3 linked regions of the Homo sapiens genome follow. The protein of the gene in region 1 interacts with the protein of each later gene in a biochemical or structural test. Each region holds a gene or a part of one and is shown on either strand. Other genes may lie near its edges. The genes, in order: RHEB, RAF1 and RPS6KB1.

Evidence for each region.
Region 2: the proteins of RHEB (region 1) and RAF1 form a complex in vitro, tested with the Homo sapiens proteins (3 studies listed by BioGRID and IntAct).
Region 3: of the proteins of RHEB (region 1) and RPS6KB1, one has a biochemical effect on the other in vitro, tested with the Homo sapiens proteins (one study listed by BioGRID).

The regions. Positions count from the first base shown.
Region 1 is NC_000007.14:151,471,161-151,474,910, forward strand, and holds part of RHEB (GTP-binding protein Rheb), read right to left. Parts: intron 446-3,750; coding exon 389-445; intron 282-388; coding exon 234-281; intron 1-233. UniProt on the Homo sapiens protein: Small GTPase that acts as an allosteric activator of the canonical mTORC1 complex, an evolutionarily conserved central nutrient sensor that stimulates anabolic reactions and macromolecule biosynthesis to promote cellular biomass generation and growth.
Region 2 is NC_000003.12:12,662,559-12,666,308, forward strand, and holds the start of RAF1 (RAF proto-oncogene serine/threonine-protein kinase), read right to left. Parts: upstream 1,560-3,750; 5' UTR 1,255-1,559; intron 951-1,254; exon of another isoform or gene 811-950; intron 239-810; exon of another isoform or gene 167-238; intron 1-166. UniProt on the Homo sapiens protein: Serine/threonine-protein kinase that acts as a regulatory link between the membrane-associated Ras GTPases and the MAPK/ERK cascade, and this critical regulatory link functions as a switch determining cell fate decisions including proliferation, differentiation, apoptosis, survival and oncogenic transformation.
Region 3 is NC_000017.11:59,930,972-59,934,721, reverse strand, and holds part of RPS6KB1 (ribosomal protein S6 kinase beta-1), read right to left. Parts: exon of another isoform or gene 3,670-3,750; intron 3,101-3,669; coding exon 3,000-3,100; intron 553-2,999; coding exon 462-552; intron 289-461; coding exon 198-288; exon of another isoform or gene 194-197; intron 1-193. UniProt on the Homo sapiens protein: Serine/threonine-protein kinase that acts downstream of mTOR signaling in response to growth factors and nutrients to promote cell proliferation, cell growth and cell cycle progression.

The sequences.
Region 1 (3,750 bases):
GCTTTATGCAAAGTGGCAGATAACCTAAAGGTAGTTTCCTATAAAGTTTGCTCTCTCTTTTCTAGAGGAATGTGAGATTTCTATTCCACTTTTGCTTCTGCTGCACACGACCATAACACCTCTGAACGGATAAAAATGCTACAGCTAAAAATATTCTTGACATCAGAACAATAATTAAAATGATACTTCAGTGACTAAATCATCTTAGATTTGACTTTATAAAAGCTACATACCTTTCCATATGCAGGTCTTTCTTATTCCCAACCAACATAATAGGTATTCTATTTGTAAGAAAAAAAAGACAAACCAGTAAGTGCCAGATTGTATTGCTCAGAAGATACTATTAAAAGAAGTTTCTCTAACAAGCAGATAAAATGGTACTACTTACTGTACTTTCCCCACCATATCCAACAATTTGCCATGGATAACTTTAATCACTTCAAAACTATAAAACAAAAAGTATAAATTAGACATCCATTTTAATGTTGAAGTTTTTAAATGTATGTTATGTTGCCAGCTGGAAAAATGTAAAATGTCACAGACTCACCATTTTAACATAACATAAAATGAACACAAAGAACTCCTGTTTTTTCCTAGCAATCCATTCACATGTGCATACATCTGACACTCAGCAACCCTGACTGAGGATATTCAAAGTGAAACAGGTAAGGCATTCAAACGGAAAGCCTACCACTGGGCTGAGAAACCACATAAATGCAAATTTTAATCACCCAACTCATTCAGCAAAGAACCAACTGTTTACATTACAACTTGAACAGCTTTTCCTAGAGTGCCCTAGTACATTCAGCCTGCTCCTGTGTTCTTTCCTAGGTACATACATTCTCTGGGTGATGCCAGTATCTCTTGGCTTTCAATCAGATCAATGAGCCGATGACTCTAGGATGGAGGTGGCTCTCACCGGGAAGGGGATCTGAGATGTCATAATGATCACTTGAAATCTGCCACAGCAGGATTATTTATACCACTGACTGCTGGCAAATGGCCACAAATCATTTTCCACCCTCCCCCAAAAAACCCATGCAAACATCTGCCAGCACATCACTGGCTCTACTTTCAAATCCTACCTAGAATCTGACGGCTTCTCACTCCCCTCCACTGCTGCCGCTGAGGTGTGAATTCCTGGCCCAAGTCTGCCTGCATCAGTTCCACAGCCCCAACCCTTCCCCGCCACCCCTGCTCAGCACAGCAACCAGAGGACTCTGCTGCAGCAGATGGACGGTGCCTGGTTCAACATCCTCTGATGGGTGGCCATCTTTACTCGGCCCCAGTGACTCTCAAGCCGCAAACTTCTGACCTCGTGATCCGCCTGCCTCGGCCTCCCAAAGTGCTGGGATTACAGGCGTGAGCCACCACACCCAGCCTCAAATGTCACTTCTTACACCTCTTCTGTTTACCCTAAATGACAAATTTCCTTTCCATTTCTTACCCCTTCCGTACTTTATTTTTCTTGGCAGCATGGTCACAGACATCCTATCTCGCATGTGTGTCGTTTTACTGTTTGTCTCCCACACCAGAAATAATAGGTCCGCAAGGGCAGGGATTTGTCTGCTTTGTTCATGATTGCATCACAAGCTTCAGAATAAGTTAGCTTGTTGAATGAATTACACACTGTGCTATTTTAAACGATGTGTGCTGTCATTTGATAAAAACAAAAATGAAATTTAACCCCCCTACAAGCTCGCTGTGGGTCAACAAATGGGATATGGGTGTCCTAAGGACCTGCGGTTGCATTACAGAACCACGGTTTCCTCCGCATGCTGTATTTGCCTATCTTTAAAAGTGTCGCCACTTGGGCAAAAATACAGTACCCTGTCACGTGAGAAACAGCTGAAAGAACTAGGACTGTGTGGCAGGCAGCTTGGAGCCGGCTCCCAGATCTCCTGCTCTCCTAGTGGCCACACTGTGTGTCATCTCCCTGCATGGACCTAGTGACGTGCGTCTAATGAACAGAATATGGCAAAGGTGATGGAATGTCCCTTTTGCGGTTAGGTTATAAAAGACAGTGGCTTGTCATGCAGGAAATTCCCTGGCTCTCTTGTGCACCTGCCCCAATGAAGTGAAGCACCTGGCAAGGAGCAGAGGGCAGCCTCAGGCCAGCGGCCAGCAAGGAACTAAGAAGCTCAGTCCAACAACTTGCAAGAAACTCAACCCTGTCAAGAGCCACGTGAACACGCTGGGAAACATCTTCCCCCAGGCAAGCCTTCAGATGGGACTGCAGCCCCTGCTGATACCCACACTGTGGCTCTGAGAGACTGAAGCAGAGGACACAGCTAGGCCACACCCAGATTCCTGACCCACAAAAACTGTGAGATCATAAATGTGTACTGTTCTAAGTGGCTAAATTTCTTGAGATCACTGATTTTCTGAATCAAACTGGTTGATTCGGAAAGTTTTACTGACGTATTTCTTGGATATTCATAAATATTTGTGTATTCAGCATACAGATTTCTAAAAAACAAAACACCACTCTTCTCATACTCCCTCATGTCTCAAATTTGAGAATGCTGATTAAACTACGAGCTACTAGAAAAAAAAGGCATTATTTAAAACAGCCCCATTTGTTCCCAAACCCACTTATGCCAGTTAAATTCATCATAGTCATAATTTATGTTGCAAACTTTTGAAGTATGTGTAGACAGAGTTTTGTTTGTCTGAAAACTAGAAGTTGAATACTGTGAGTTGATCTACTAAAAACGGTGCTCCTTAATAAGGTGTGCCAAACCAACTGAAAAAGACTGGTGGGGAAAATCACAGCAATCTAAATAGTTGAGGTGTAGACTGTTTCCCAAGCATCTCACTCGGAAGAAACCGAACCAGAAGTCATAATGGACAAATCGTGGATGTAGTCATACTGAACAGCAGTGGGTGAACTCATATTCAAAGATGACAATTTGAAAATTTCACAAGATGAGTGACTGAATGTATATTTATGCTTTAAAACAAAACACTGGAGATTGACATCACCTTTCCGATTTTTTTTCCCTTTAACCAGTGTTGTTTTTTTGTTTTTTTTTTGAGACACAGCCTTGCTTTGTCGCTCAGGCTGAAGTGCAATGGCATGATTTCAGCTCATGATACAGTCTCCGCCTCCCAGGTTCAAGAGATTCTCCTGCCTCAGCCTCCCGAGCAGCTGGGATTACAGGCACCCGCCACCACACCCGGGTAATTTTTGTATTTTTAGTAGAGATGAGGTTTCACCATGTTGGCCAGGCTGGTCTCGAACTCCTGACCTCAAATGATCTGCCCACTTCGGCCTCCCAAAGTATTGGGATTACAGGTGTGGGCCACTGCGCCTGGCCCTTAACTAATGTTTTAAAGTAAGTAACCCGGCTGCCTCAGATAGGAGAGATCTACTCCTATATCAATATACCCAATTTACAGGCGACAAAGGTACGGTGAAGTAACTTGTCCAAAGTTGTTAGTGGGGATAAATGAAAACCCAAATCTCACATCTCTCAACTGCAGGTTTCTTTTTTCCATTTCTAGAAATTATGAAATAGGATGTATTTTCGCTTTATTTACTCAGAAAGAGCAATTCTACAGGGGTTTTATGATATAAAGGAATAATGTGAGACTTCTGTTTTATTTCACAAACAATGAAAATGGTTATTATTTAGATAGAGGTTAAATTCAATAAAAAGGATTAGACAATTCTGATCAACAAACTGGTTGATTCAGAAAGTTTTACTGACATATTTCTTGTATATTCATAAATATTTGTGTATTCAG
Region 2 (3,750 bases), on another chromosome or scaffold:
CCCTCACAATTCTAGCAACTTTTATTTTACTCTCATCTCTCACCATTTCCTTCCTGCACCCCAGGCAATTTGCTGCTCCCCAAACTCATCCCAACTCCCACATGGCTCTAAGCCTTTGTACCAGCTGTTCCCTGAGCTCCTCCTCACCCGATGAGCACTTACTCACAGGTGTTTCAAAACTCGACTCAGAAGTCTCCTCGAGTGTAGAAGCTTCCTCAACTCCTCCCCAAGCAAAACTAACTGTTCTAAATCCCCATAACACTTGATAAGCCAATTCTTATCACACTGCATTGTTTTCACGCCTTAGGAGCGCAGGGAGGGCAGAGTCTCTCCACTCAGCCCACAGAGGACCAGGCAAGCAGAAACGCTCAATGAACGTGCCTTGAATTCATTTTCCACTTAGATTAAGTGACCCCCTAGAACCCGTTCACATCTCAAGGATACACTAAGTTCCATTCCTTCTTCCCACCACAGAATGAATACCAGGGGCACACCCAGAGCCCTAGAACGAGAACAATGAATGAACACGGCCGCCTCGCCTCTCACGACGTCCAAACCCCTCTCTCTTGGGCATCGACTCGCTCGCAGAGCCTCAGCAGCTGCAGAGCTGAAGCGTCCCGGCGGCTCTCGCGTCACACAAAAGACAGCCCTGGCTCTTCATTCCAAAGCGTCCTGAGGCCAATCCTCTATAAGTATCCCAAACCTTTCATTAATAACCCAGAGTCCTGATACCCAAGGCTAGTCCTGATACCCAAGAAGAGGCCCCTGTGCCTTTGTGGTAGGGCACTGGCCAGTTTCCTCCTCTCTTACCCGATTCCTCACGTCGTCTCTAAAAGGGTGTCACTTGACTGAAGTACCCTGAGAAAGGGTGCAAGCCCGGGTCCCACATTCGGCGGCCCAAGAGAAAAGGAATTGGCCCATCCAAGTGACAACAGATATGGGGCAGCTCTGGGCGGATTTTCCCACTGCCAAATATGAGGAATGCGCATGGCATAAGGGTGGCGTTGGCACGTTTCCGCCAAACACAAGGAAATTTGAGTGGGATGTGGGAACTCGGCTCGCCGGCCATGACACCGGACTCCGGGGCCCCCGCCCAACGCTACCCCAGGGTGACAACGGCCTGGCCCAAGCCCTCTGCCCGGCAGCCGCGGGGCCGCTCCATCAGCGCCACCCAGGCCCGGTCGCCCTGGAAGCCGATCCCTCAGCCCCGCCGCCCGGCTCCCCCGGCATCCACGACCCGGTCCTGCCACCTACCTGAGGGAGCCAGGCCGCCCCAACGTCCTGTCGTTCGGCGGCAGCTTCTCGCCCGCTCCTCCTCCCCGCGGCGGGTGAGGGAGCGGGAGGCGGTCACATTCGGCGCGTCCCCAGCCCAGGGGACGGAGCCCCGAGCAGCCCCCGCATCGTAGCAAACGCGCTCCGCGCCTCAGGGCACGCGCCCCAAAGCCCGGCCAGCTGACCCTTTTCGGGGCCCAAAAAAGGCAGCAGAAAGCCGTTCCCGCCTCACAATCGTTTTCCTCTTACTCCCGCCATCTAAGATGGCGGCCCAAGCGCCCGCGATTAAGACTCTCGGGCGGCCCAGACGAGCGAGCCCTCGACTCGGTGCTCGTCCTCCCGACCTGCGACGCCACCGGCTCTCCGATTCTGCGCGAGCCCTACTGGCAGTCGACTTCTAACTTGGCTCGGGCATCCATCGCTCTGGCCTGAACTCAGGCCCCGCCCCCGGGGCGTGGCCTAGCGATCTGGTGGCCGCCATTTCGAAGCTGAAGAGGTTAGGCGACGCTGACTTGCTTTCAGGAGAGGCACTCGGTAATCGAGAAGAACCGGCTTTCGGCCAGCCAGGAGTGGCCAGAGGCCTAGAAGGGGAGAGGAAGGCCTGCCTGCCCAGCATTGCAAGGCCCAGCGATCACCAGACGTGCCTCAGGACACAGGGCACAGTGTCCAACTTTGACGCGTCCTCTCCGGGCACTTTAATACCAAATCACGGCTCCGCCACTTGACAGCTATGTGGACAGTCCCTGAACCTTAAACGGTCTTTTCCTTGTGTGTAAATTCCGAGTTCATTTTTCCCCCATCACATTAGCAACAAGTTAAAAAAACTGATAATATCCGGTTTGGTCCAAGGTATATTGAAACCTGTTGTGTGCCCTCGCAGCGCTATCACAGTGGAACTTGGACATGTTAAAAGTATATATCCTTCCTCCCGGCAGTTTCACTTCTAGACACTAATTCTAGAGAAATAAGTATACACATACACAAAAAGCTATGTGTGAAGATATTTAATGCCATATTATTTGCATTCTGGAGAAACACTGGGGATGAAATGAAGATTAATAGGAAACTGGTTAAGAGAACGCTGCTACACATCCAATCTGGGTTGTCATCCATCCAAGAATGAACTAGATAGTTACTGAATTTAAAAAACAACAAAAAAAGGGCCCGGCGCTTTTTTTGGGATTACTCCTGTAATCCCAGCACTTTGGAAGGCCGAGGCAGGCGGATCACCTGAGGTCGGGAGTTCGAGACCAGCCTGACCAACATGGAGAAACCCCGTCTCTACTAAAAATACAAAAATTAGCCGGGCGTGGTGGCGGGCGCCTGTAATCCCAGCTACTCAGGAGGCTGAGACAGGAGAATCGCTTGAACCCGGGAGGCAGAGGTTGCAGTGAGCCCAGATCGCACCATTACACTCCAGCCTGGGCGACAGAGCGAGACTCCGTCTCGAAAAAATAAATAAATATAAAAAAATAAAAATACCAAATTAGCTGGGCATGGTGGTGCATGCCTGTCATCCCATCTACTCGGGAGGCTAAGGCAGGAGAATTGCTTGTACCCAGGAGGCGGAGATTGCGGTGAGCCGAAATCGCGTCATTGCACTCCAGCCTGGGCAACAAGAGCGAAACTCTTGTCTCAAAAAAAAAAAAAAAAAAGACATGGCTGGGCGTGGTGGCTCACGCCTGTAATCCCAGCACTTTGGGAGGCCGAGGCGGGCAGATCACTTGAGGTCATGAGTTTGAGACCAGCCTGGCCAACATGGTGAAACCTGTCTCTGCTAAAAAATACAAAACAAATAGGCCGGGTGCGGTGGCTCACACATGTAATCCCAGCACTTTGGGAGGCCGAGGCGGGCAGATCACGAAGTCAGGAGATCGAGACCATCCTGGCTAACACAGTAAAACCCCGTCTCTACTAAAAATACAAAAGATTAGCCGGGTGTGGTGGCGGGCCCCTGTAGTCCCAGCTACTCAGGAGGCTGAGGCAGGAGAATGGCATGAACCCGGGAGGCGGAGCTTGCAGTGAGCTGAGATCGCGCCACTGCACTCCAGCCTGGACAACAGAGTGAGACTCCGCCTAAAAAAAAAAAAAAAAAAATTGGCCAGGTGTGGTGGTGCGCGTCTGTAATCCCAGCTACTCAGGAGGCTGAGGCAGGAGAATCACTTGAACCCAGTAGGCAGAGGTTGCAGTGAGCCGAGATAGCGCCACTGCACTCCAGCCTAGGTGACAGAGCCAGACTCTGTCGCAAAAAAAGGAAAAAAAAAGCCATTAAGTTAAAAAAGCAGAACATAATGTATGATCTTATTTACGCAAACACAGGAACACAAGATACCTACCTAATACTACAGAATGCCATGTGCACTATTACTTTTCGATATTGAGAGCCTATTAGGTACCACACATTATTTTGGATATTGGAAAATTAACAGTAATCAAAATCCCTGCCATCTAGTAATGGGAGATTAAAAGAAAATATAA
Region 3 (3,750 bases), on another chromosome or scaffold:
TCATTTAAAAGAAAATGTTTCGGAAAGTATGGGATCCCATATAATCATACAGCATTATTAGTGTTAAACTGCTAATAACAAATCTTTGGGCTTTGAAAACTCCACTGGTAACATGTTCAGAAAGCACAGGACAGGTCTCTTGCTATAGTGACTCAGCACAGACCAATAATACATGCAGCTTTTAACTGTGCACCTACTGCTCCAGTCAGCATGTCATACATTAATGCTCCCAAACTCCACCAATCCACAGCACGATTGTGGCCACTTCTCATCAAGATTTCAGGGGCCCTACAATGAGGAAAATAATATGCTTAAAAATTCACCCATTTGCATATCATCTGAATTAGAATTTTAAAAACAATATACAGAGTCAATGAGGGTACAGAAAACAGATACTATTCCTTAAAACAGGTAAAATTAGCTATTACCCCCAAACCAATTATGTTTAACATGTAGCTCACATGTATTCTATTGTTCCACAAAATGTGTGTGTGACTGTTCCATCATGAATAGATTCTTTGCATAGTCCAAAGTCTGTTAGTTTCACATGACCTACAATGAAAGATTACAGCATGATTATTCTCCGAATTATAAGTATGTGCAGTGTTTGAACATGTCACATAATACTTTAATCTATCCTTCCATTTAACTTTTCTTGCCTCAAATTTTCTTGCAGATGTCAAGAACAAGGTACCATCCATAAAATGGGATGCTAACTGTTTAAGGCTAGGGCAAAGTCACCTTTTGCCAATGATACAATCTATCTAGTAAAGAGAAAATAAAGATAGAGAAAAAAGTGAAATAACCTGTTTAAGGCTCTAGCTTTAAGTATATACAAAATTCTCTACCATCCTGAAAAAGAAAAATCCTGGGAAAACTGTTTTATGAAGTCTAGTTTACGTACACAGACCCCAATAAACATACTCTGTACCTTTTGAACAAAGGTGTGAGACAGTACTTCAAATATATAGCTTTTATCACAGTGAACTGTGAAGAGTCCTTAAAATGGTCTCAGAAACTCATTATAACAAGGTAGCTCATTCTGCCCAATGCTACCAATTAGGGGAAAGAAAGAAAATTGCTAGATAGTATGAATCAATCATCACTGATCCAGAAAGTAAAAAACTTACCACCTTACACAAAGATCATTTCAGTTCAAGTTTAGCTTTCTTTACTGGACTGTCATAACAAGTGGTTCAACAATCTCAGGGACTCTAGTATTTGAGGTTCATTTCACAGAAAAGGCACAATGACCTATTGATTCAAATGTAAATATATACTACACTCTGATACAGAAGAAGTATGGCCTTTATTTTCACAGAACCATCTGATACACTCAACCTTATAAATCAAAGAAGTTAACTATTCTATCGCTCCCCTATTCTATCCTGTGACTTATAATTCAGATCAGAATCCACGTTTTGGGGAGTGAGGAGGTGTTGATGAGAGGAAGGAAGAGACACTGATTCCCATGATATATTCAGTTAAGTATATCATTTCTCCTTAAAAAAAAAAAAAAGGTGGGTGGAGGAGTATAATCTGGAATGTTTATATGAGCCTCAGTTGTTCATACATCATTTTCTAAGAGTTTGAAACAATTAACTACCTCATGGATTATTCTGTAGACATCTAAGGATTAGCAGCTGCTACCACCTTCTAGATACCCTGGGTCAGCTGGTTGCTCCTTTGGGGTACGAGTGAATTGCCAAGTCTACCTACAGCCCAGATTAGCATAAATTGAGCTGTCTTTAGCAGCATGCAGTTGTAGTCAAGGCTCACTGTGCTATATCTATAGTTGTATAGATTATCAGTCTCTCTGATGTTTATGTTTGTTGTTACAAACAAACAGCAAGAATAAACTGATTCTGGCTGGGGGGAAGGTGGGTTATGCCTGTAATCCCAGCAATTTGGGAGGCCAAGGCAGGCAGATCAATTGAGCTCAGGAGTTTGAGACCACCCTGGGCAACATGATGAAACCCCATTTCTACAAAAAATACCAAAAATTAGTCAGGCGTGGTGGTGTGCCACAGTGGCCCCAGCTACTTGAGGGGCCGGGGTGGAAGGATCACTTGAGCCTGGGAGGCGGAGGTTGCAGTGAGCTGTAATCATGCCACCATACTCTAGCCTGGATGACAGAGTGAGACCCCCATCTCAAAAAAAAAAAAAAAAAAGTAACCTGATGCCTACTAAACATCATATTTCCAAAGTTTTATCAAATACTTTGGTTCAATTTCAATCCTTTTCCCAGCATTAATAAAACCTACTGTAAGAAGCATAGCTTCTAATATTCACATATTTTCTTTTTTTTTGAGACGGAGTCTCGCTCTTTTCACTCAGGCTGGAGTATAATGTCGCGATCTTGGCTCACTGCAACTTTCGCCTCCTGGGTTCAGGCGATTCTCCCACCTCAGCCTCCTGAGTAGCTGGGATTACAGGCACCCACCATCATGCCCAGCTAATTTTTTTTTTTTTTTGTATTTTTGTAGAGATGGGGTTTCACCATGTTGGCCAGGCGTCTTGAACTCCTGACCTCAGGTGATCCACCCACCTTAGCCTCCCAAAGTGCTGGGATTACAGGTGTCAGCCACTGTGCCCAGCCAATATTTACATATTTTCATTATTAAAACTCAACTTATATAATTGAGATTCACTTTTCAATTTAAGTAACAAGCCAAAATTAATGTTTAGACTGGCTTTTACAGTCTAAAACATTATACAACATTTGATGTAAAGATTCCAAAAACATGAAAAACTATAAAGAGTAAGGATTAAACTAAAAAAGGCAGTTGAGCGACTATTATCCTCAACTTCTTTTACTCTCACCAAGCGTAATTACCTAAAGACTTAAAATATCAGCAAGTACTATGATGCCATGAATTCTGAGGGAGGAAATATACAAAATAGAGAGATGAATTTGGGGCTTTGAAAATGGCCACGACCTATGTGGGAGGATTTTAAGATGATTATTTACTATAGAATTGTTTACGGTATGTCTCCACCTTGGTGATTAAGCATGATATTCTCCGGCTTCAGGTCTCTGTAGATGATCCCCTTTTGATGTAAATGCCCCAAAGCCATGGAGATTTCTGCCAAGTAAAAGCTGGAAACAAAAGTGATTTAATAAAATTAAAAAGAGTGTAATCTATCCAAAGCAGTTTACGTATGGAGCAAAATTCCTTGAAAGAAACAGACATGCACCAAAGACCAAATTAGTGGGGTAGGGGGATGTATTGGAAAAAGAGATGGCATAGGATGCTGCCAAAAGGCATGGGGACATTTATGTTTCACTCATTTTAGTGAAACTATAAAGTGCTTTATTTTGCCATTAGAATATATTGCTAAAATTGCAAAGATGTCCAGAATATGCTAAACTGCCATTGGTCATGTTTTGTTCTGTCTGTGTAGGAATTAAGCTAATAGCCATTCATTTCAAGCAAATTTCTCCCATCCACACCCAACTTTAAAATCCCATAGGAAATAGGAACTTTGTTATTCTCAGAGATCACATCTTGATTTCAAAAGGTATCTTATAACCTGACCCTTAGAAGCCCACTCATCCCTTACTTAATACAGCTACATATTTATAGACAGCTGAGGCCCACAGTATCTGCCCTCCCACCTGCCAGCCAGCCCACAACTATAAACTGTGTGACACCCAAATTTATCTACCTCAAAAGAATAAAGGGCTGAATCAACCCTGTCTGGATTCGAAAAGCACAAGGCACTGCAATACTGGCTGCATAACAATGT